Linked DNA regions of Homo sapiens: region 1 is linked to region 2. Evidence: fine-mapped expression QTL. Tissue or cell type: whole blood. Region 2 holds a variant in brackets; the other region holds the start of a gene. Each region is shown on its reference strand, or each on the opposite one. Region 1 holds the start of ZNF304 (zinc finger protein 304). Region 2 has its middle 10 kb from the start of SENP7.

Region 1 (9,632 bases), not on the chromosome of region 2:
CGCAGATCTCTCACCTGGAATCACTTTTTTTTTGCCTTAAATATAACCTTTTGGGTTACCTTTTTAACTAAAATTTTCATTTTTTACCTCATATGGTCTTATTTTATACTGCTTCTTGAAAAACACTATTGTTGTGAATAGAAATCTAGGTTTGCACTTATTTCTTCAGTAACTTCACTGTATCCTTCCACTACATCCATGAGTCACTATATACTGGATGTGAGTGGAGACAATTTATATTGTGACTATAGTCTTCCTGTGCTACAGAAACAAAATTTGATGGCGGTGGTGTTTTGTTTTGTTTTGTTTTTGTTTTTGCTTTTGTTTTGCTTTTGAGACAGAGTTTTGCTCTTGTCGCCCAGGCTGGAATGCAATGGCAGAATCTCGGCTCACTGCAACTTCCACCTCCCAGGTTCAAGCGATTCTCCTGCCTCAGCCTCCCAAGTAGCTGGGATTACAGGCACCCAACACCATGCCCTGCTAATTTTTGTATTTTTAGTAGAGACGGGGTTTCACCATGTTGGCCAGGCTGGTCTTGAACTCCTGACCTCAAGTGATCCACCCACCTCGGCCTCTCAAAGTGCTGGGATTACAGGCATGAGCCACTGTACTCAGCGGTGATGGTGGTTTTTTTGTGTTTTGTTTTTGTTTTTGGAGATGGAGTTTCGTTCTTATTGCCCAGGCTGGAGTGCAATGGTGCGATCTCCGCTCAACGAAACCTCCGCCTCCCGGGTCCAAGCAATTCTCCCGCCTCAGCTTCCCGACTAGCTTGGGTTACAGGCATATGCCACCAGGCCTGGCTAATTTTGTATTTCTAGACACGGGGTTTCTCCATGTTGGTCAGGCTGGTCTTGAACTCCCAACCTCAGGTGATCTGCCCGCCTCGGCCTCCCAAAGTGCTGGGATTACAGGCGTGAGCCGCCACGCCCAGCTGGTGATGTTTTGATGAGGACAGGACCTGACTTATGTCTCTTAGTTTCAGGCAGGACCCTCTCATAATCAAGTTTGTGATTGGATCTACCTGCCTTGAGTGCCAGAAGGGAGAACGAGAGGTAGAGAGGCAGGTTTCGGTTACTGTGAATGAAAGATGAATAAGGAAGTGTCCTCTAAAGTCACAAACTTGAAACGGGATGAATTCTACTCTCCACTTAGGTCTGAGAGCAATTAGTCCTGCTATTTCCAAAATTAGAATCTTCTTTTTAAAATTTTAGTTTTAGAGACAGGGTCTCGCTCTGTTGCTCGGGCTAGAGTACAGTGGCGGGATCATAGCACATAGCAGCTTTGAACTCCTAGACTCAAGCCATTCTCCTGTCTCAGCCTCCCGAATAACTGGGACTACAGTCCAAAAATTTGAATCTTGTGGCCTGTAATAACGAGTCTCTTGAGCAGCATGCCTACCTATGGTTTTAGGCACACTTTTTCTGAACTGTTGAAGAAATAACCCAAATGTGTGCTTTCATGTAAAATCTTTAATCATACCTATGAGGCTAGCTGCTGAGTTAGGGTGTTATTGTATTTTATGTTTTGATAAATGCCAAAGATCCTGCTGAGGCTTAGCCTCCCACAGAGTATATTTACTTCTTTTCATATTTTCCATGTATCTCTTTTATTGATTCATATCTTGATAGCATCATGTGTCTTATTTCACTCTATGTGAATTGAAGATAGTTTTCAGTCATCTATATTGATAGTTCTGTAAATATTCAGTTGTACTAAATATAAGCACCCCATATTTGTATTTATTAGACCAGAATTATCAATCTTGGCATGAGAATTCACTAGAACTTTAACAATTTTATATTGTTTCTACTAATTGCTGAGATAATGGACATAAAAATGCTCAGCATATTCATAGATTTATGTCTTTATCCTTTTACAAATTGTTGCTTTATGTAATACAAGTCAGCATTATACATTACATAGAGTTCAAAATATAATTTCTTGGTGATCATTTCTTTCTTTTTTTGTTTTCTTTCTTTCTTTCTTTCTTTTTTTTTTTGTTTTTGAGATGGAGTTTAGCTCTTGTCGCCCAGGCTGGAGTGCTATGGCGTGATCTCTCGGCTCACTGCAACCTCCGCCTGCCGGGTTCAAGCGATTCTCTCACCTCAGCCTCCTGAGTAGCTGGGACTACAGGTGCCCGCCACCACGCCCAGCTAATTTTGTATTTTTAGTAGAGACGGGGTTTCACCATGTTGGCCAGGCTGGTCTTGAACTCCTGATTCACCTGCCTTGACCTGCCAAAGTGCTGGGATTACAGGCATGAGCCACTGCACTTGGCCAGTGATCGTTTCTTTAATACTGATATTTTCTGATATAAATTTTCATTTTCATGTGTTAATTCTTTGTTGTATTAAATATATTTTTCCCAAAGCTGTTTCATATAGTTTTCTAATATTATACTCTACAAGTGTTTCTTGTACCCATACTACTGTTTTTTGTTTTTGTTCTTTATGAGAGACGGTCTTACTGTCTCTCCCAGGCCGGAGTGCTGTGACACCATCAGAACTCTGTGCAGCCTTGGCTCAAGTCATCATCCTGGCTCAGCCTCCTGAGTAGCTGGGATTACAGGCTTGTGCCACCACACCCTGCTATTACTTTTTTTTTTTTTTTTTTTTTTTTTTTGGTAGAGATGGGGCCTTGTTACGTGGCTCAGGCTGATCTATTAATAGAATTCCTGACCTCAAGCAGTTCTCTTGCTTCAGCCTCCCACATTGCAGGAATTATAGGCATGAGCCTCTGTGCCTGGCCTTTTGGAAATTTTTAACACATCAAAACTTACTAAGTGCTAATTTAAGAATTTATTCCATACTCATTTCATGAGATAGCTGATATATTTGGGTTTATATACATCCTCTGGTTGTGTGTGTGCTTTTCTTTGCCTTACTTATTGTGTGTACTTTATTTTTTGTAATGTTTTCTTTACATTTACATTTTCTTTAAATTTGTAAGATATATACTCTGATTCAGTTAATGTTTAAGCTTTAAAACAGTTATTTAATACATTATAGAGTTAATGTATTTGCTCTCCTCAAGAAATATAAGAAACTTATATGTTAGTTAATTTGCCCATATGAGTTTATATACTATTGAGGATATGCATGGTAATTCCACCATTCTGTTTCCAGAAGTATTAATATTTTATTTTATTTTTTATTTTAATTTTTATTTATTTATTTATTTTGAGATGCAGTCTCACTCTGTTGCCTAGGCTGGAGTGCAGTGGCACAGTCTTGGCTCACTGCAACCTCCGCTTCCCGGGTTCAAGTGATTCTCCTGCCTCAGCCTTCTGAGTAGCTGGGATTACAGGCGCCCACCACCACGCCTGGCTAATTTTTGTATTTTTAGTAGAAACAGGGTTTCACCATGTTGGACAGGCTGGTCTCGAACTCCTGAGCTCGTGATCCGCCTGCCTTGGCCTCCCAAAGTGCTGAGATTACAGGCGTGAGCCACCGCGCCCAACAGTATTAATATTTTATACAGATAATGAGTGGTCTCATTAATCCATAGATGCACTCCTCTCTCAGATCCTCATTTCTTCTATCATCACAGACCATCACCTGGGATCACTTTCCTTCAACCTTAAGAAGGATCTTAAAAGTGTTATTTTATGCCAGTTATTTTTATCCATTAAATTTCTCATTTTGGGCTTCAAATAGTCTTATTTCAGTTTTTCTTAGCCAGTGCATTTGTCGTGCATAGAAATCTGCTGGCAGTTATATCTGTAACTGACTCCGTATGTTATTCCATGTGTTCCTGACACCTAAATTTATATTGGCTTTGAGTGGAGACAGATAATTTATATTATACATATATATAATTATGTATGTGTGTATATAAACTACATGTGTATATATATATAAATGCTGTGTGTATGTGTGTATATATATTTTTTCTCAAAGATATGAATTATTTCTATGTCATCTCATAAAATAAACCAGGTTATAAAATTTTAACTACAGTGACTCTTAAGTGGACAGTGGAGTTAAAAATTATGAAGAGCAATTAGTCTTGATAGTTCTGTGTTTTGAATCATACAGCCTATAAGAATGTGTCTTCTGGACGATAGACCTACCTGTAGTTTATGAAACCCTCTTGCATGTGATTTTTTTCAATTAAATGAGTCTATTGATATATTGGTGTGCTTTTGTGCAAAAATTATAACCATTAGGGGCTCCCACCTGTAATCCCAGCACTTTGGAAGACTGAGGCAGTTGGATCACCTGAGGTCAGGAGTTCGAGACCAGCCTGACCAACACGGAGAAACCCCATCTCTACTAAAAATACAAAATTAGCCGGGCATGGTGGCGGATGCTTGTAATCCCAGCTACTCGGGAGGCCGAGGCAGGAGAATCGCTTGAACCTGGGAGGGAGAGGTTGCAGTGAGCTGAGATCGTGCCATTGCACTTAAGCCTGGGCAACAAGAGTGAAACTCTGTCTCAAAAAAAAATTATAACTATTATCTATGATGCTATTTGATGAGTGAGGGAATAATTGTACTTTTTTCTTTTTTTTTCAAAATCACACTGATCCTGAAAAGGTGGATCTTTGATTTATCTTCCTAAAGCAGTGTATGTGAGAACCTTGTGTTGAGGAAGACTGATAACAGCTTGTATGTATTTAGCACGATGTGCCAGGCCTGGTGTTAAGTACTTTTTACCTCACTTCCCATATTCCTAATGAGGTTGGTTGTAGTGTTTTTCATCTTACTGATTTTTTTTTGTTTGTTTTTGTTTTGTTTTGTTTTTGGCTAATGACTTTAAAAGACCTCCAGTTCTTGAACTTCAGCTAGGGTCCCATCCCCAGAGTTTATCAGAAGGTATAGGTTGGGTCCAAGAATTCACAGGTTTTTTAAGTTCATAGTGAAGCTGATGCTGTAAAACTACATATCAAATTGGGAAGCAATGAATTAGAAGAGGCTCATGTTTTCGTCATGTTACATGTAAGTTCCTCCTTCACTTTTCGCCATGAATAAAAGTTCCCTGTGGCCTCACCAGAAGCAGATACGGGCACCATGCTTCCTGTACAGCCAGCAGAAAGGTAGCTAATTACATCTCTTTTCTTTATATGTTAGAAAAATTAGAAGGACATTCAATGTTTTACAAAAAGGCCCACAAACGAAATACAGACAACGTTCAATTTATTAATACGTTTCAATCCCCAAATCTGAGAGAGGTGAAGCAGGTTTCCCAGGGCCTCAGAAGCAGGATTGAAGAATGGGTCCCTTGCTGGCGACTTCAGTGGCGTGGCATTGTCCCAGGTGGCCATGGAAATCAGGGTGCATACCCTTTAAAAGCAGCTGTGGCCTCCGAGATATCGTTTTCCCAGTCTTTTCTCCCCCTCCCTGCACGACGCCTCTTGGCAGACATCCGGGAGAACCCGAAAGGCGCTCGTTGCCTGGTTGGATGCAGGGTACAAACTACGTTACCCAGAAATCTGTGCCCAGCTCATTGTTAGCCGGCGTGCAGCCAATGACAGCCCAGAAACTGGGCGTTTCCTGCTGCTCTGGGCTGCAGGGGCGAGACTTCTGGCGTCGCCGTCGTGACGTATTTTTCCTATGCCCGGTCCGTGCATTCTGGTTGTGAAGGCTGAGTTCTAGAGATCGGGTCGGCTTTCTACGCGGCTCTCGTGGAACCTAGCAAAGAAAGACAGTGAAGACTGCAGGACCTTCCTTCGCGCTTTTGTTACAATCCATGACCCCTGTCGTGGGACGGGCGGCCTCTCGCGGAGGTGTCTGCCGGGGCTGGGCTCTTACCGAGGCCTCCACACACGTCCTCTTGTCCTTGTCTCCCCCAGAAGCAGCCGCCTTAGTCTTGTGAGCGTTTTTACACCGGGTAGATTGAGACTTGGAGTGCTACACTCAGCCCGAGGGCGTCCAGCGCGGTGGAGGCGTGGGGTTTCGGCTGAGCCCACAGGGCACAGACTGTTCATCCGCTTCTCATGGCAGCGGCGGTGCTGATGGACCGGGTTCAGGTGAGTGGGGGCATCCCTCAAGCGCACCCCGGCCTGGTTGGTGTGTCCTGGGATGTTCGCTCTCATCGCGCACTTCAGGGTGCTCACTCCGTCGCATTATGTGGAGGGGTTCCGCTCCCCTCATCAGTGGCATAAGGTGTGGAACGGACTCGAAGGCGCAGGGGCAGTTCGTACAAATGCATGCATGGAGAGGAGAATGAGTTTGGGGAGTTCCGGGAACTCTCTGTGCCTGGTGAGAACAGGGACTAGGGGGTCAGAGGTAGGCCTGGAATGGCCGCCCGAGGAGCTGGTCCTCTCTTCTGAGGGTGCTGGGAGTCATGCAAGGTTTGGTACAGAGAAGGGAGGTCCTCTGACGCAGTTCTTAAAAGGCTCCCTCTGGCTGCAGAGTGGGTAGACTAGGGATTATAGGGTAGACGGGGAGATCAAGATGAAGTCTACTGAAATAGTCCAGGTGAGCGTTGATGGTCTGGGCCAGAGTGGTGGCAGCAGAGGTTAGAGAATGTATGGGTTTTGGGTTTTGTATGTATTTTATAAGGAAGGCTGACCAGATTCTCTGATGAGACATAGTGATGATATCCTGGGATTCTTCACATGACTGTCTTCACTTGAGACAGGGGGCAGTGAATGGAGGTCATTTCTAGTTTAGTGTCCTGAATCCAGGCCATGAGTTGTATGGAGTTATGTGGAGAAGTCCCCACCTGGCGACCAATGGGATGAGTACTGCAAAAGTATATCAGACCTAGGAACAGGTACGCTCAAATGCTTGTAGGATTGAGTTTGGAGCGCTCAGGGAATCTCAGGTCTTAATTACCTTTGTTGGAAACAGGTATCAGAGGAAGGAGTTAGGCAGGAATGGCTGGCCGAGGTGTCTTGAGTGTGGTAAAAGTCGTGGGAGATTTGGAGCAGAGGAGGGAGATGATCTGACTCAGATTTTAACATGCTCTCTCTGGCTTTCAGGTTGAGAACAGACTGTGAGCATGAGGGAGCAGCTACTGCAGTAGTGTTGATGGTGTCTGGTCTAGAGGTGTGGCTGTGGAGGTGAGAGAAGTTGGTAAATTTTCTGTTTTTTAAAGTAGGGTGATTGGATTTTTTGATGCGAAAGGTGAAAGAGAGGAGAGTCGTGGATGACCCTAAGGTTGGTTTGTTTTTGCTGTAGCTGGTAAAATTATGAAAATGCCATCAACTGAGATAGAGAAGTTGGCAGCAGGTATGATTTTTAGTGGTTATATCAGGAGTTAGGCTTTGGTCATGTTTAGGTTAAGAGGTCTCAGTTGTCATCTTAGTTGAGGCCTCAGGAAAACACACAGGTTTTTAGTTCTGGGGAAGGGTTCTGTTGAAGAAGTTGAAAAAAATGGTGGCCAGTGTGTGGAGTGGGATGGGGTATCTTCAAATCATGGTGGTAATGCTGTTATTCAGTAAGAAAGTTGAAACTGGACACTGAGAGAAAACTGGGTCTGTTGCTTAGGCACCTGGACGGCAGTGGTGGATAGTGTGAAGACGCGAGCGCTTCCTGGACACTGCTTGCAGAGTGGCATGGGGGATGAGGGATGTCATGGAGGTGCATATGGCATGGGCCAGTGGCGGTGGGGATCTCAGATGTGAGGAAGGTGTAGTCCAAAGAGTAATGAGCACGTTGGGAGGAGTGTGAACTGATGCCCTTAAGACTCTAGTATTGGCAGCTCATGGGAGAAGATGGAGCTGAAGTTTGGTTGTGTTTAGAGGCATCGTCTGGACAACACCAGGAGAACTGGTTGGTAGGCGAGTATTTGGGACCCTTCATGCCAGACCCAGAGTTGAGACAGCATCTGTCTGCACACTTGCCTGGTTCTGCTCTGGGCTGGACACAGTGGTGAGAGGGACATGAGGAGAGAGCAGACACTAGTGGTGCCAAGGTCTGTTATCTCCTCTTAGTTGGGAGGCTGGGGAGGCGAGGGACTAGAGAGTGGGTGTGTGAGTGTGTAGACTGGGGAGGAGGGGGTTCTGGGGAGAGATGCTGACTGTGGACTCAGCTGTACTTATCATGGCAGAGTTGTGTGACCTTCGAGGATGTGTTCGTGTACTTCTCTCGGGAGGAGTGGGAACTCCTTGAGGAGGCACAGAGATTCCTGTACCGTGATGTGATGCTGGAGAACTTTGCACTTGTGGCTACACTAGGTAAGTCTGTGTTTTAGTTATCTAATGCTACATGGCAAATTATCCCAAAGCTTAGTAACTGCAAACAATAAAAATCAATTATCTCTCCAGTTTCAGTGCATTGGTAATCTGGTTAGAGCATTTTTTGTTGTTTATTATTTTGAGGGTTTTTTTTTTGTTTTTTGTTTTTTGTTTTTTCAGAGAGTCTTACTCTGTCACCCAGGCTACAGTGCAGTGTTGTGATCATGGTTCACTGCAGCCTCAAATTCTTGGGCTCAAGTGATCCCCCCCACCTCACCCTCCTGAGTAGCTGGGACTATAGGTGCATGCCACCACGCCCGGCTATTTTACTTTTTGTAGAGATAAGGTCTTGCTACGTTGCCCAGGCTGGTCTAGAGCTCCTGACCTCAAGCGATCCTTCCTCCTTGGCCTCCCAAAGTGCTGGGATTACAGGCTTGAGCCAGTGTGCCCAGCCTGATCACACCTTCTTATGCAGGTGCTTTTGGCTCTCATGAAGTTTTAATCAAGCTCTCAGCCAGTGTTGTGGTCTTACCTGAGAAGAATCCACTTACAAGCTCACTCACATTGCTTTTTGCAAGATTTAGTTTCTTGTGGCTTGTTGGACTGTGAGCACTGTTCCTTGCTGGCTGTTGGCCAAAGTCCTCCCTCAGGTGGCCTGTCTGTATTGTACCTTATGACACAGAAGCTAACTTCTCTTTGAGCAAGTGACCAAAAGAATGTTCAAGATGGAAGCCCAGGATTGTAACCTAATCTTGAAAGTGTCATTTCATTATTTTTGCCATATTCTATTCCTTGGAAATAAGTAAGTCCATCCAGCTTACAATCAAGTGAGGAGGCTTACACAGGGGCAAGAGTACCAAGAGGTAGGGATCACTGGGACCATCTCAGAGGCTGTGTTCCACAGGCCTTTACACCCACTCCGGTGTCCTTGGTGGGGTTTGAGTCTTCTTCTCTTCCCCATGGGCCACTCTTTCTGTCCATCCAGATCCATGACTCTTCTCCTTCCCTTCTTTGTTTCCCAGAGTAGGTGCTGTGGGTTCTAGGGCTGGCTGTGTTCAGTGTTTCTGCCTTCACTGGGTAATCTGAACATCTGTTGCCCTAGAGCTTTGCAGGAAAAGGTTAGGATTCGGGAGTTTTTCAGTCTGCTAAGCAGATTCTACACAGCTCAGGTGCCCACTGCCTGAGTCCGTGTCATGATCTTTGCACCTCTTTGTCCTAGATTCTGCCCTCATCCTCTGGCTGACATTTCCTGGGGCCTGACTGTGCCAGGAATTTCAGGGGCTGACACAGTCACTTCTTGTGGTGATTACAGGGCTGTCCTGGTACATCCGCCTTGGAGAGTATTTTTTCTAAACATTCTATTTTCTCTGTGGAGTGGGTCTACCTGCGCCACTCACCTGCCCTTTGTTTGCGTTACAGCTTTCATTTTCCCAGTCCCATGCAGTTGCGCAGTTGGAGGGGGCAGAAAACCTTGGGTGCCTGACAGGGCAGACATCACTGCAGCCACA
Region 2 (8,908 bases):
TGTGAGAGATCCAGGAGCTTAAAAAAAATTGGGGAGCGGGGAAGAGGGAATGGCTAGGTCCCTCTGACTTGTCCACACTGATCCTTCAGGTTTACCTATCCTGGTACTTGTTCCATTGGAGGCTTCAGCGGCTAGTTTCTGCTCTGGTAAGTTGTGATTCTCTACATTCACTTGCTTTCAGTCCCTCCAATTTTGGAGGCAGTAGTATGCCCAGTAACCTTACTTATTTTATGGAACTTATGAAGAAGAGCTGTTGATTTTTGGTTTGTCTAGCTTTTTACTTGTTGTTAGGACTGAGTAGCAACTTCCAAGATTTTTACATGCCAGTCTGGAAACAAGAAGTCAACAAACATCACCATTGAAAATTTTGAACAAGGTTGTGACATCCCATTAGATTGTTTCACCACGGCCTCGATGTAAAACATTTTTGGATTTGCTGGGCGCGGTAGCTCACGCCTGTAATCCCAGCACTTTGGGAGGCCGAGGCAGGTGGATCGCCTGAGGTCAGGAGTTCGAGATTAGGCTGGCCAACATGGTGAAACCCTGTCTCTACTAAAAATACAAAAAATTAGCCACGCGTGGTGGCACATGTCTGTAATCCCAGCTACTTGGGAGGCTGAGGCGGGAGAATAGCTTGAACCTGGGAGGTGGAGGTTGCAGTGAGCCAAGGTCGTGCCATTGCACCCCAGCCTAGGGAACAGAGCGAGACTCTGTCTCAAAAAAAAAAAAAATTCTTGGATTTTTGAAGCATGGATTTTTGCCGTGCATTGCATCCATTTTCAAGGCTTTTTTTTTTTTAAAGGATAGTTAAGTCTGTCAATTATTTACACTTTAGAAAAAGTAAATTAATTACGTAATAACATCTGAGAGAGAGGCTGGGCATGGTGACTCACACCTGTAATCCCAGCACTTTGGAAAGCCAAGGCAGGAGGATCACTTGAGCCCAGGAGTTTCAAACCAGCCTAGGCAACATAGTGAGATCCCATCTCTAAAAAAAATTTGTTTTAATTAGCCAGGCACGGTGGCATGTGCCTGTAGTCCTAGCTACCTGGGAGGCTGAGGGGGTGCTTGCTTGGATGTCTTAAATCTCTTTTAATATTTTTTTTTCCCTGAGATAAGAAGGTCAAGGCTGCAGTGAGCTGTGATCACACCACCACGCTCCATCCTGGGTGACAGAGTCAGACCCTGTCTCTCCAAAATAACACCTGAGATCAGCAAAGACTAGAAGCATTTTTCATAGAAAAGGAAGGAATGGAGAGCAGTGTGGATAGTGCTTTGGACAACCAAAAACCTTTATAAAGTACCTGTTGCGTTAGAGGGGTCAGAGAATAAGATTTAGAAAGTGAGAAGGGAGTTAAGAAATCTTAGACCAGCTTATTGAAGTGGGGAAAAAAATTAAAAATTTAGGTGTGGTGGCTCATGCCTGTAATCCTAACACTTTGGGAGGCCGAGGCAGGTGGATTTCCTGAGCTCAGGAGTTCAAGACCAGTCTGGCAACACGGTGAAACCTACTAAAATACAAAAAAATTAGCTAGGTGTGGTGGCATATGCTGTAATCCTAGCTACTTGGGAGGCTGAGACAGGAGAATTGCTTGAACCTGGGAGGTGGAGGTTGCAGTGAGCCAAGATCACACCACTGCACTCCAGCTTGGGCAACAGAGTGAGACTCCATCTCAAAAAAAAAAAATTAAAAGAGATTTAAGACATCCAAGCAACCACCATTTGAATTTTGCCTTAGGCCTAATAGCAACTCAAGTTGCACTGAAAATCATTTTGAGTGCAACTTATTGGAAGTAGGTTGTAGCTTGCCAGTGTCAGTGTTAAGAAATTAAGAAGGGAGAGTGTTAATATATCTGTTAAGAGAGTGCATTTGAGAGTCAGCCTCATATGCAATCATTTCTTTGATAGTTGTCTGGCTTTAGAGAAAGCCACTTAACCTTTCAAAGCCTTTTTTCCCCCGCTTTAAGCTCTACCTACAGCAACTAAGTTAACTTCTCATCTAGCCTATTTTTTTCCTTCTCAGACATCAGAATAACTGTATCTTCTAGTATTCGCTGAATTGATCATAATCTCCATTGCCTGATTCACATTTCACTCCCGCTTCTATCTTCTGCCGTTCATTTAACAGCAAAAGTTATTAAATATCTTCTGCAGAAATAAATGAAGACCAACCAAATGAGAAAAGCCTATTTATTCTGAGCCTGCTGTAGCAAGGGAGTCCACCACTATCACTTGCGTTTTGGCAGAGACTCAAGGCAGGCAGAAGAGTAGGAGAGCTGTATAGTGGGGGAAAAAAGAGAAGACTTCGCATTTGCCCTGATTGCAAGTTGTCATGGGGAAGCTGTAGGTGAGCTAACTAGAAATGGGGACATCTTGCGTGATTGGTTAGGGGTACATATTTGGCTCTCTCTGGTTGGTCTCAAGTTGGAAATAGGGACAAAATTACGAAAGCTGTCAGTTATTAATGAAGTTCTTGCCATTTGGCACCAATTGTTATAGAAGTTACTGGTTAGTTTCCTGAATTTTCACTAGTGATAGAAATCTGGTTTCCTGCCAGTCTGACATACCAGACTGACTTCCTGAGTTGTTTATTGTAAATGAGGGGTTGGCTTCCTGGGCAGGTTGCTGCAGGTTATGTCAAAAAATCCATATTTACATATGGTCTCTCCATTGTCTCTTCATATATTCAGTCTTTCACTGCTTTGAATCATTCACAATTATTTTGAATTGACGTCTTTACCATAGGTTAGAAGGTTAATGTCTTTCTGACATGCTTAATTTAGCATCATGTGCCATAGGAAGAATTTGGCAAGCTGAAATTTTCATTTTACTTTTGCTAGCACTTATATACTATTACTCTTTTAACTTTCAGTGGTTACCAATGACACAGGAGCTGAGCTTCCAAAAATTTATTGAACAATCTGACTTACTAGGAGAACTTAAATATGACTTCAATGAAAAAGATGAATTCAGACATACTGAGACACAAAGGCCTTTTGTCTTTAACTATTATGAAAATGTCCTTGAGAAAAATAGCAAGCGCTACCAGGCCCTTGGCCATTTGCTTGAACAATACATTTATGAGCTTTTGGAGAAAGTGTGCAAATTAGAAAAAGTATATATCCCACCTGAGGCTGATAAAGAAGAACCAAGAAGCTTCTTTTTCATGAGCGAGAAAGCATTAACAAATCACCATTCTGCTCTTCTTATCCTTCTTCAAGACCATGGGGTCTTTCGAGCTGGTCAGTGGAGTCAACAGGCAATAATACATCATGGTCTCCAACATGGAAGTCAGATACCATGTATTCAAATGGCATTGCAGGCACACTATGATGTAATTGTGCTAAACCCCAATGATAATTTTGTGGAACCAAAGGTGGAAAAAGAGTGGAAAGGCCTTTTAACACAAAATATTGAGTCATCTTCTCTAAAAATGGTTCAAGGTGGGAGCTTTTTCTCTCTCCAGCATCCTCCCAAATGCATTCCAAAAAGATGCAGCAACACCCCCGAAGAACACACGGCTTACATATGGGATTACTTCATTTCAAAGACTGAAGGCAAGGATATTGCCTTCATTGTACATGGTTATGGAGGCTTGGTTTTTATGGACTTGCTTGTTCGTAGAAGGTGGGAAGTGATGAGCAAAGTATATGCTGTTGCACTTATCGACTCTGAACATCACGTAGGACACCAGCTGGGAAGTGATGTACAATTATTAGCATGGATAAAGCACCACTGCCGTGAATGGGTGACAAGTCCTAAGCCTTTGGATAAACCTGCAGCTACTGTTTTCAAAAAGGAATTTCCTATGGTTTCTGCTGGCACAGAAAAGTACATCTTAGCCCCTTCCTCTAGCCTTCAGTCAATTTTTAAGTACTTTAAAAAAGCTTTAAAAGCCAGAACAACCATTAATTTCTCTCGAATGCCAATAGTGACTAGAAGCTCCACAAAAAGAAAGCAAAGTGCTTAAACTACTTTTGTCATCTAAGATTTTTTTGTCCTTCTGCAACTTTGCTAATACAGATTCTGGAAGAAAAAAGAACACTTTCAACTCACACACAATATGATGTTCTGGCTTGAGGTTTGATTTGTTACTTTTTATTATTTGGTTTTTATGAGGCAGGGTCTGACTTTGCTGCCCAGGGTGGTATGGAAATCTGGCCTCAAGCGAACCTCCCACCTCAGCCTCCCAAAGTGCTGAGATTATAGGCATTAGCCACTGCACATGGCCATGGCCAGGTTTGTTGCTTTTTTTTTTTTGGAGGAGGAGGAGGAGGAGTCTCTGTCACCCAGGTTGGAGTGCAGTGGCACCATCTCAGCTCACTGCAACCTCCACCTCCTGGTTTCAAGCAGTTCTCCTGCCTCAGCCTCCCAAGTAGCTGGGACTACAGGCACATGCCACCACGCCCAGCTAATTTTTGTATTTTTACTAGAGACGGGCTGTTCGCCAGGCTGGTCTAGGACTCTTGACCTCAGGTGATCCACCCACCTTGGCCTCCCAAAGTGCTGGGCTTACAGGCATAAGCCACTGCACCTGGCCATTTTGTTGCTTTTTTGAAAAGTGAACATATTCTCTCTTTTGTAGCCTGTTGATGAACTGGGAATTCAGTGTCATCATTAATATTTTACAGTGTTAGTTAAGTGTGAAGATCTTTCTTTTAAAAAGCTGTGGTTTGATATAATGACAACAAAATGGCAATTGATAAAAATTAGATATTGAATCAATCTTTGATTTCTATAATAATACCATAGTAAAATTAAAAGTGAACATAAAAATTAAACATCATAAGCAAACTGCATTCTTTGTGTGTTTATGTTTTTTGTTAAAATTTGTTGTACTCCCTGTTCACCAGGTCTGAAGAAAAATAAATTTTAAATAAATTTGTTGGTCTTGTGC[A/G]TATGTTCACTCACATCTTCAACTAATATCTGAGTGCTTACTATGTGCCAGTCAAGACTAGGTGTTTGGGACACCGTAGCAAACAACCCCAACATTGCCTTTCTCTTTACAGAGTTTACAATGGCTGAGAAATTACAAACGTGAAGAGTGTTAAATAGTAAAGGAGACTGGGCGCGGTGTCTCATACCTGTAATCCCAGCACTTTGGGAGGCTGAGGTGGGCGGATCATCTGAGGTCAGGAGTTTGAGATCAGCCTGGCCAACATGGTGAAACCCCATCTCTACTAAAAATACAAAAATTAGCCAAGCATGGTGGCAAGCGCCTGTAATCCCAGCTACTTGGGAGGCTGAGGCAGGAGAATCACGTGAATCTGGGAGGCAAAAGTTGCAGTGAGCCAAGATCGTGCCACTCCACTTCAACCTGGACGACAAGAGTGAAACTCCATCTTAAAAAAAAAAAAAAAAAAAAAAAAAAAGGAAAGGGTGCCATGGAATATCTACCATGAGAGCTAACCAGCCTTGGGGTTCAGGGAATATTTCCCAAAGAAAATGATGCTTAGTTTGAAGAACAATAGTAGTTGGCTAGGGGAACAAAGTCACAGGCAAATGAACAGCCTATGCAAAGGTGTTCAGGCAGGAGAAAGAAGGCTAGCTCAGCTACAGCTGAAAGACTGAGAAGGAATAGCATGTTCAGAAATAAATTATTTATGACACTTGTTGATACAGTTTAGATTTGGATATTTGTTCCTACCCAAATCTCATGTTGAATTGTAATACCCAGTGCTGGATGTGAGGCCCTGTAGGAGGTGTTTGGGTCATGGGGGCAGATCCCTCATAGCTTGGTGCTGTCTTCACAATAGTGAGTTCTAGTGAGATCTGGTCATTTGAAAATGTGTGGTGCCTCCCCCACCCTCTCTCTCTCTTGCTCCTGCTCTGCCATGTGAGTGGCCTGCTCCCCTTCACCTTCTACCATGAATAAAAGCTCCCTGAGGCCTTCCCAGAAGCCAAGCAGTTGTTAGTGCCATGTTGCCTGTATAGCCTCCAAAACCATAAGCCAATTAAACCCCTATTCTTTATAAATTACCCAGTCTCAGGTATTTCTTTATAGCATGCAAGAACACCCTAACACAGAAAATTAGTCCCAAGGAGAAAGATGTTGCTAGAAAGATACCTGAAAATGTGGAAGCAGCTTTGGAACTGGGTAATGGGCAGAGGTTGGAATGGTTTGCAGGGCTCAAAAGAAGATAAGAAGATGAGGGAAAGCTTGTAATTTCGTAGAGACCAGTTAAATGGTAGTGACCAAAATGCTGATAGTGATATGGACAGTGAAGACCAGGCTGACGAGGTCTTAGATGGAAATGTGGAACTTAGGGACTGGAGCAAAGTTCACACATGTTATGCCTTAGCAAAGAGCTTGGCTGCATTGTGCCACTGCCCTAGGTTCTGTGGAAGTTTGAACGTGAGAGTGATGATTTAGGTATCTGGCAGAAAAAGTTTCTACACAGCAAAGCATTCAAGATGTCGCCTGGCTACTTCTAACAGCCTACATTCAAATGTGGGAGCAAAGAAATGACTCAAATTTAAAATTTATATTTAAGCAGGAAGCAGAGCGTGAATGTTTGGAAAATTTGCAAACTGCCCATGAGGTAGAAAAAAGGCTTTTTCAGGAGAGGAATTCAAGTGAGCTGTAGAGTAACCCCTTGCTAGAGATATTTGCATAACTGAAAGGGAGCTAAGTGCTAATATCCAAGGCAGTGGGAAAAGTCCTTGAGGACAGACATTTCAGAGACATTTGAGGCAGCCCATCCCATTACAGGCCCAGAGGCCTAGGAAGGAAGAATGGTTTCATGGGTCAGACCAAGGGCCCCAGTGCCCTGTGCAGCCTCAGACACTGCTTCCCACATCCCAGCTACTCAAGCTCTAGCTAGGACTCAAAGGGGCCCAGGTTCAGCTCAGGCCACAGCTCCACAGGGTGCAGGCCATAAGCCTTGGGGGCTTCAACATGATGGTAAGCCTGTGGGTGCACAGAGTGCAAGAGTTGAGGCTTGGCAGCCTCTGCCTGGATTTCAGAGGATACATGAAAAAGCCTGAGTGGTTAGGCATGGTGGCTCACACCTGTAATCCTAGCACTTTGGGAGGCCAAAGTAGGTGGATCACTTGAGCCTAGGAGTTCAAGACCAGCCTGGGCAACATGGCAAAACTCCATCTCCACAAAAAATACAAAAATTAGCCAGGCATGATGGCACACACCTGTAGTCCCACCTACTCAGGAAGATGAGTTGGGAAGACTGAGCCTGGAATGCCTAGGCCCACAGTGAGCCATGATGGTGCCACTGCACTCCAGCCTGGGCAACAGAGTGAGACCCTGTCTTAAAAAAAAAAAAAAAAAAAAGCCGAGTGTCTAGACAGAAGCTTGCTATAGGGGCAGAGCCCTCACAGAGAACTGCTCCTAGTACAGTGCCAAGGGGAAATGTGGGGTTGGAGGCCCAACACAGAGTTTCTACTGGGGCACTGCCTAGTGAAAGCTGTGAGAAGGGGACCACCATCCTCCAGACCCCAGAGTGGTAGAGCCACTGGCAGCTTGCAACCTGTACCTAGAAAAGCTCCTGGCTGTCAACAACCTGTGAGAACAGTTGTAGGGGCTAGATCCTGCAAAGCCACAGGAGTGGAGCTGCCCAAGGCCTTAGGATCCCACCCCTTATACTAATGTGCTCTGGATGTGGGACATAGAGTCAAAGGAGGTTGTTTTTGGAGCTCTAAAATTTAATGACTGCCCTGCTAGGTTTCAAGCTTGTATAGGGCCTGTAGCCCCTTTCTTTTGGCTGATTTCTCCCTTTTGGAATGGGAATATTTACCCAATGCCTATACCTCCATTGTATCTTGGAAGTAACTAACTTCTTTTTTATTTTATAGGTTCATACATGGAAGGAACTTGCCTTGCCTCAGATGAGACTCTGGACTTTTGAGTTAATGCTGGAATGAGTTAAGATTTGGGGGGACTGTTGGAAAGGCATGATTGTATTTTGCAAAGTGATGAGGACATGAGATTTGGGCCACGGGCAGAATGATAAAGTTTGGATATTTGTCCCTGCCCAAATTTCATGTTGAATTGTAATCCCCAATGCTGGAGGTGGGACCTGGTGGGAGGTGTTTGGGTCATGGGGGCAGATTCCTGATGGCTTGGTGCCATCTTCATGATAGTGAGTTTTCAAAAAATCTGGTCATTTACAAGTGTGTGGTACTCTCCTTACCTTGCTTGCCCCTGCTCTTACCACGTGAGATGCCTGTTCCCCCCTCACCTTCTTCCATGATTGTAAGCTTCCTGAGGCCTCTCCAGAAGTAGATGCTGATGCTATGCTTCCTGTACAGCCTGCAGAACTGTGAGCCAATTAAACTTATTTTCTTATATATTACCCAGTCTTGGGTATTTCCTTATAGCAATGCAAGAATGGCCTAATATACTTGTTGAAGACAGTAAGGAAGATCTTATACAAGGACTACTGCAGTGAGGAATTTGCAGTAGGAGAGAAAGATCAGGCTCAACTCTGAATACAAGGACTAGTGGAGATTTATAGCCAAGGAGCAAGGTGGGGTCAGTGGATGAAAAATTACTAAAAGAAAATATCAGGGCTATGTGATGGTTAATACTGAGTGTCAACTTGATTGGATTAAAGGATACAAAGTTTTGATCTTGCGTGTGTCTGTGAGGGTGTTGCCAAAAGAGATTAACATTTGAGTCAGTGGACTGGGGAAAACAGATCCACCCTTAATCTGGTGGGCACTATCTAATCAGCTTCCAGCGAATATAAAGCAGGCAGAAAAACATGAAAAAAGAGAGATGGGCCTAGCCTCACAGCCTACATCTTTCTCGTGTGCTGGATGCTTCCTGCCCTTGAACATCGGTTCCAGGTTCTTCAGTTTTGGGACTCAGACTGGCTCTCCTTGCTCCTCAGCTCGCAGACAGCCTATTGTGGGACCTTGTGATCATGTAAATTAATACTTAATAAACTTC

Evidence for each region. PIP is the estimated chance that this variant, and not a neighbour inherited with it, causes the effect. A credible set is the group of variants that fine-mapping cannot tell apart.
Region 1: ZNF304 starts here. The variant in region 2 is the best candidate, but not a certain one, in a credible set for the expression of ZNF304 in whole blood (TOPMed, PIP 0.81).

The regions. Positions count from the first base shown.
Region 1 is chr19:57,345,728-57,355,359 of GRCh38, forward strand. It overlaps ZNF304 (zinc finger protein 304), which reads left to right and starts at 5,544. Exons shown (of 3, transcript NM_020657.4): 1 at 5,544-5,970; 2 at 7,998-8,124. The coding sequence starts at 5,938. RefSeq lists enhancers at 4,720-5,579, 5,537-5,626, 5,580-6,438, 5,777-5,846.
Region 2 is chr3:101,519,010-101,527,917 of GRCh38, forward strand. It overlaps the pseudogene ARB2BP. Among named protein-coding and RNA genes, the nearest start is that of SENP7, 10 kb to the left of the region's middle. The variant A/G (reference allele first, on the strand shown) is at 4,898.